2 separate regions of the Homo sapiens genome follow, and region 2 is linked to region 1. The links come from fine-mapping of genetic effects on gene expression. A gene starts in region 1. The other region holds a variant in brackets. All regions are shown on one strand. Distances are between the middles of the regions. Region 1 holds the start of SPATS2L (spermatogenesis associated serine rich 2 like). Region 2 overlaps SPATS2L (spermatogenesis associated serine rich 2 like).

Evidence for each region. PIP is the estimated chance that this variant, and not a neighbour inherited with it, causes the effect. A credible set is the group of variants that fine-mapping cannot tell apart.
Region 2: its variant is the best candidate, but not a certain one, in a credible set for the expression of SPATS2L in lung (TOPMed, PIP 0.64).

Annotation. Positions count from the first base shown.
Region 1 is chr2:200,304,885-200,307,796 of GRCh38, reverse strand. It overlaps SPATS2L (spermatogenesis associated serine rich 2 like), which reads right to left and starts at 1,104. Exons shown (of 13, transcript NM_001100423.2): 1 at 875-1,104. RefSeq lists silencers at 140-469, 490-1,219 and an enhancer at 1,630-1,729.
Region 2 is chr2:200,335,288-200,338,199 of GRCh38, reverse strand. All of the region lies in intron 2 of SPATS2L (spermatogenesis associated serine rich 2 like), which reads right to left. Among named protein-coding and RNA genes, the nearest start is that of SPATS2L, 30 kb to the right of the region's middle. The variant T/A (reference allele first, on the strand shown) is at 1,792.

The DNA.
Region 1 (2,912 bases):
TCGTGAAGTTCAAAAACACACCAACCCCGCGGGAACACGAAACCTCCACTCGCGAAGACGCGACGCTTCCGCCGCATCCCCGCGCAGGTGAAGACTCGGCCCTTCAGCCCCGCGTGTGCGGCAGCATGATATTCAGAGTGCGCCGGCGTCCAGCGCGAGCGCATCCTACGACAACCCCGTCTCCCGCTGGGGTCCGCAGCCCGCGGACTCCGGGGTCCCCCCGCCCAAATGCGGCGGCGCGACCGCTTCGTCCCGCGGCCAGGGCGCTCCGCGTCTGCTCCGGCCACCCCAGCCCACCCGCGCAGCGCGGACGCCAACGCATCCCACTCCCGCTGGGCGCCAGGGGCGCGGGGTTCAGTGGGGCCGCGGCCCCCGCACCCGGCTGGGATCCGAGGGCGGGGTGGTCGCGGCTGACGTGGGCTTTGCGGCTCCGGGCCAGAGAGCAGCCTGGGGGACGGTGGGTCTCTTTCCGGCTTGGGAGGGAACGGGGGCGCCCGCGCGGGAGGACGGCAGGCGAGGGACGGCGGCCGCGGGCGATTCAGATCCGGGGCGGGCGGGTACACGTCGGAGCGCGGCGGCCACACGCTCGCCCGGGGAGCGCCACTGTGCGTCCCAGCCGGCGCCTCCTCCCGCTTGCCCGCGCCGGCTGGAGAAAGGAAGGACGGCGACCTTCGCGTCCGGTCCGCGCCACCAGCCCGCCTCGGCGCCGAGCGCGGGCCACACCCAGCGCTCCGGGAGGCGGCGGAGGCTGGGCGGCCCGGGCTGCGGAATGCTCGGCCCAGCCGAGTCTCCGTCCCGGCCGCGCAGGCCCCTCCGCGTCCGCCCGCGCCCTGCATCCCCAGCCGGCCCGGCGTGGAGGGGGTCCTGGGCTTACCTCTGTGTCGAGCGCCGGCTCCTCCGTCCCGGGCCGGAGCCGGGGCCCGGGGGCGCGGTCGCCAGGGGAGGCGCCGCGGCGGTGGCGGCCCCTGCGGCTCGGAGGGCGGGCCGAGCGGGAGCCGCTGCCTGGGCCGCGCGCCGTCCGGAGCTCGCCCCGCGCTGCCGGCGCTTGCAGCGGAGGGCGCAGCCAGCTCGGCCCCCGGACTGGATTCCTTCACTGACACAACTCCGGCTCGGCCGCCCCACGCAGGGACACTCCCGCCCCTCGCAGGCTGCCCCCGCCCGCCGACCCGCCCGCCTTCCCCTCGGTGTCACTCACCAGGAGCACACACCCCAGCCGGCGCCCCTCGCTCCCGCTCGCAAACACAGCGCTGCTCACGCCTCTCTCGGGTTTTGTATCCGCTCACACGCACGTTCTGACACAGATCTCGTCCCTCCACACGCCCTCCCTAGCTCCTTTCCCACCCCACTTTCTAGAAGAATCCCAGTACAGCTTCCGCACTTTGCTTGCTTGCTCCAGACCGACTTCCTCGCCTTTCCCCAAACCTCCACTTCACCGAAACTCCCCTTGTTAATGAAAGATTTTGTCACAATCCGCACGTGTTGCAAGAGAATCATCTTCTCCTACCCGAGAAAATGAACTTTGCTCCCTCAGCACTGTCTGCAAATACGAGATGTTTTTCCTTTTAGAAGGTAGTAATGCTTTCTGGAGAGGATCCAAGCTCAAAATGTAAGCAAAGATAGCCCATTCGAAAATGACCTGAAAAATCAGGCGCGGAAAAAGTGCTGGAGCTCGGGTCAGCCCTTGGAAACCCGACCAACCCGGGGTGTTCCGCCGCCTCCTCTGCGCTGCGGGTCTGCACACTGGGCTCCAAACGTGTGTGTAATAACCAAGTTACACATGGGCATCGTGGGCTTCAGCCGTGGGTTTCTGCCTGGGAGTACAGTAGTCGGGAGAGTAAAAGCAGTTTCTCAATCATTATTCATGATGGAAGCACTTTAGATAACACTCTTCTTCCAGAGGCAGTAGAGTGAAATGCAGGCAGCTCTCCAATTCAGGTTTTTATTTATTTATTTATTTATTTATTTATTTAGAAGGGTGACTTCTTAGCTTCCTTTTTTTTTTTTTTTTTTGGCAATACCAATAACTGTTTCTGAGTGGCTCCTTGGCTGTCAAGCTCCTTACAAATATCAGACCAGAGTTTGTTATGCTTCTCGAGCTCCAGACTCTAATGGGCCTCCGAGGGCACTGCAGAATCGTACATAATCCGATGTTCAGGAATTCATAATTTGAAATAAAATACAAACACCTTTCGGATAAAGTTCAAATCTGCTAACATAATGTGGCCCTGTTGACAACGCACTGCTGAAATAAAGAGAGGAGCTAAAACGAAAGGAATTCATTTTCTTATGTGACTTGGAGTGGTTCTTGCTACCTTATAGTCGCCTTGGATTGGTGTGTGGATAATATAATTTATTTAACAGACATTAGCAAGTGCTTTATAAGTACTAGCTCATTTAATCCTTGGAAGAACCCCATCAGGTAGGTACTACTTTTGTCCTGTTTTACAGATAAACTGAGGGCTGGGCCCAGTGGCTCACACCTGTAATCCCAACACTTTCGGAGACCGAGGTGGGCAAATCTCTTGAGCCCTGGAGATCAAGACCAGCCTGGGCAACATAGTGAAACTCCATCCCTCCAAAACAAAAAAACTAATAATAATAATTGGCCGGGCATGGTGGTGCACGCCTGTAGTCCCAGCTACTCAGGAGGCTGAGGTGGGAGGATTACCTGAACCAGGTAGGCTAAGGTTGCAGTGAGCCAGGATCACACCCCTGCGCTCTAGTGTGGGCAACAGAGCCAGAGCCTTTAAAAGAAAAGAAAGAAAGAAACTGAGGCACAGAGAGGTGAAATAAGTTGCCTAAGTTTTTAGCTAGTAAGTGGTAAAGGAAGAATTTGAACCTAGACCGTTGGACCCTGCCTGTGCTACAGAGAGGAAAGCTTGCTTCTAGAAGCCATACCACACATAAAGAAC
Region 2 (2,912 bases), 30 kb before region 1:
TACAAAAATTAGCCAGGAGTGGTGGCACACACCTGTATTCCCAGCTACTCTGGAGGCTGAGGTGGGAGGATCACGTGAGCCCAGGAGGCTGAGGCTGCAGTGAGTCATGATTGGACCACTGCACTCCAGCCTGAGCAACAGAGTGAGACCCCGTCTCAAAAAACAACAAAAAAGTTAATTTGTTTCAGAGTATATCTGGTTCAATAAATTAATCACCAATATATAGATCATAGAAGAAAATACCTGAATATATATGTTCATTCAACAAATACTAATTGAGTATGTCTTATGTATTAGGCAGTGGACACAGCACAGGAAATATTGGTGAACAAAGCAGAACCTAGACAGCTGGCAGTCTATTATGGGGCTAGCTGAATATCTTATGTAATGTCTTGCTAAATCTTTGAGCAGAACATAGAGAAAGAAAAAGAAGAGAGGCCATCAGCTTGTGCATCAAGGAGCAAGCAAGCTTTTAGAGGACAAAGCCACATCTCTCTCACGTTTTAAATTGCATCTCCCGAACTCTCCACTGCTCTAGGTAAGCCACACATGCCTTTCAACTAGCTGTCAGAGCCCTCTTCAAGTTCTCTTTTCAGAAAGTTTTGCAAACATCTTATAAACAATTTTGCTATCCCAGAAAATGCCCAGGTACCCCTTTGAAAGAAAAGGAAAATTCCTTTGAGATATTTTTTCTCAGTAACAAGGAATGCAATTAGGCCTATACTTGGCACTCTGTCAGTTCTCATAGCCAAGAAATCTCGGGGTTAGGAGAACAAAGCTACCAAGATGCTTTTGCTATTGACTATGGCTGGCCCAAAGTTCAAGGGTTAAAGCCTGAGAATGTTTTACCCCTTTAATTTCGCACATAACTAACTTCCAAATACCAAAGCTTAGATGACCCAGAATGTAAAATCCTTTCCATTACTTTATTAAAAAATTTTGTATGCTGTGATTTACTGCTAATGCTGGTCTTTCAAAGCATTAGTCAGGACACCTACAAACCTTCCTGCAGTGGCTGCCAATAGAAGTTTAACATTTCATAGGTTAGCACTTAAAATCTGACAAATAATAAATCATCCTTGTAAACAGTGTGAGGCACTGGGTTGATAATGTATTGAGAGTTAGTTAAAAAGATGAACTATAGATTACATTATAACTCAACACTGTGGAAAACCAAGGCCAAGTAAACTAATGATCGTTATTACCATATCTGTCTCTTCAGCGATCTGCTTTCTCTAAGAAAGACATTTTCTTTTAATAGAAAAAAAATTTCACTAAGTATGAACAATATGAAATTTGGTTGTTTCATATGTACATGTGCTTGAAAAACAAGGAATCAACACTCTTCACAGCTTTAAAATGAATGATCCAAAGGGGACAATATACTAACATTTAGAACTTGTCAGGGGCAATACTGAAAGAATCGTTTGAATTGTTTTGGGAGTTATTCATCAATTTTTCAGACATATGAACATTTAAATCATTTCCATCCTTGAAATATTATTAGTAATTACTCAAGTCCTGGTAGAACAAATGTTATGTATCGGATACACATTTGGTGTGAGGAACAGCAGTACACATCTGTTTTAGAAATGGCTGTGATACAATCAAATACACTTTAATAGGTTCACAAGAGAAAAAAAAATTAAGGTCTTTTAATGGTATGATGACCTGCCTGTGATATGCAGACTTTTCCACACATTTTAACTATGAGCAGTAAGTAGCCTTTGAAATACATGACAGTAGTATCCAAGTTATTTTCTACTCACATTTTGTATGTGTCTTTTTTTT[T/A]AAATTCATATACATGTATTATTGTATTAATATGTTATATACCTTATAAAACATGGAAAAAGGATGACAGAATGAATACAATGTTTTCTAATCATAATATCTCAAGGCAATACGAACAGGACGAAGTTCATGATTAAACAAGGTGAATATAAATCCCTTAGTTTTCCAGGTATCATAAAATTTTCATGGCCAGCTTCTTGCCAGATTTGATTCAGTGGTCCCTGTCATTAACTCATAACGTGGCTGACAAAAAGTTCATGCAAAGCTTTGCCATTCTTTTTTTGCTTGCAATATTAAAATTGTCTTCAACTTATGAGAATTCTTTCCAGAATCTTTTAAAAATTCTGCTAGTTTGTGAGGTTTTGTTAAAACTAAAATATAGAATTTGTAAATCCAGTTAACTAGGCACAATATATTTCACAATATAACAAAGACAGATGGAACAGTGGGGAAGCCACTAGGAAGCCCCTGAGCTGGGCACTCCCATTCTTTGCTCAGGAGACTTCGCCTATGCCCCAGGCAATACCTAACCACCCAGATATGTGGACTCAAGGATGGTGCCAATGTCAATACAGTTGCCATCAGTTACCATAATGTTTCATGATAACAAAATGAATGTAAATGCAAGTCCTAATCAATTTCTTTTCCTACCCAAATGAGTCTTCTCAAGTGCTCCCTGGGGTGCATATCCCACTTTGGAGACCACTTTGCCATGCAGTGACACAGTCGTTCACTTCTAAAAGCCAGTTATAATCACAGAAATCTCTAGAACTAAAATCAGGTGTGAACACAAGGTGTGAACTAAGCCAGGCCAAAGAGATAGTTACTTTATCTTTTTAACTTTTTAAATTATTACTATAACTCATTAACAGGAAAGTAAATTTAAAAATTCATTTATTTTGCCCACGTCACTACCAGCCCCGTCAAAGCACACAATATTGCCAGCACCCTTGGAAGCCCTCCAGGTCCTTTCTCTTTCCTGTCTTAGAGGCAAGCACTATCTTCTTTTTTTTTTCTTTCTTTTTTTTTTGAGACAGAATCTTTGCTCTGTCGCCCAGGCCAGAGTGTAGTGGCGCAATCTCGGCTCACTGCAAGCTCTGCCTCCCGGGTTCACACCATTC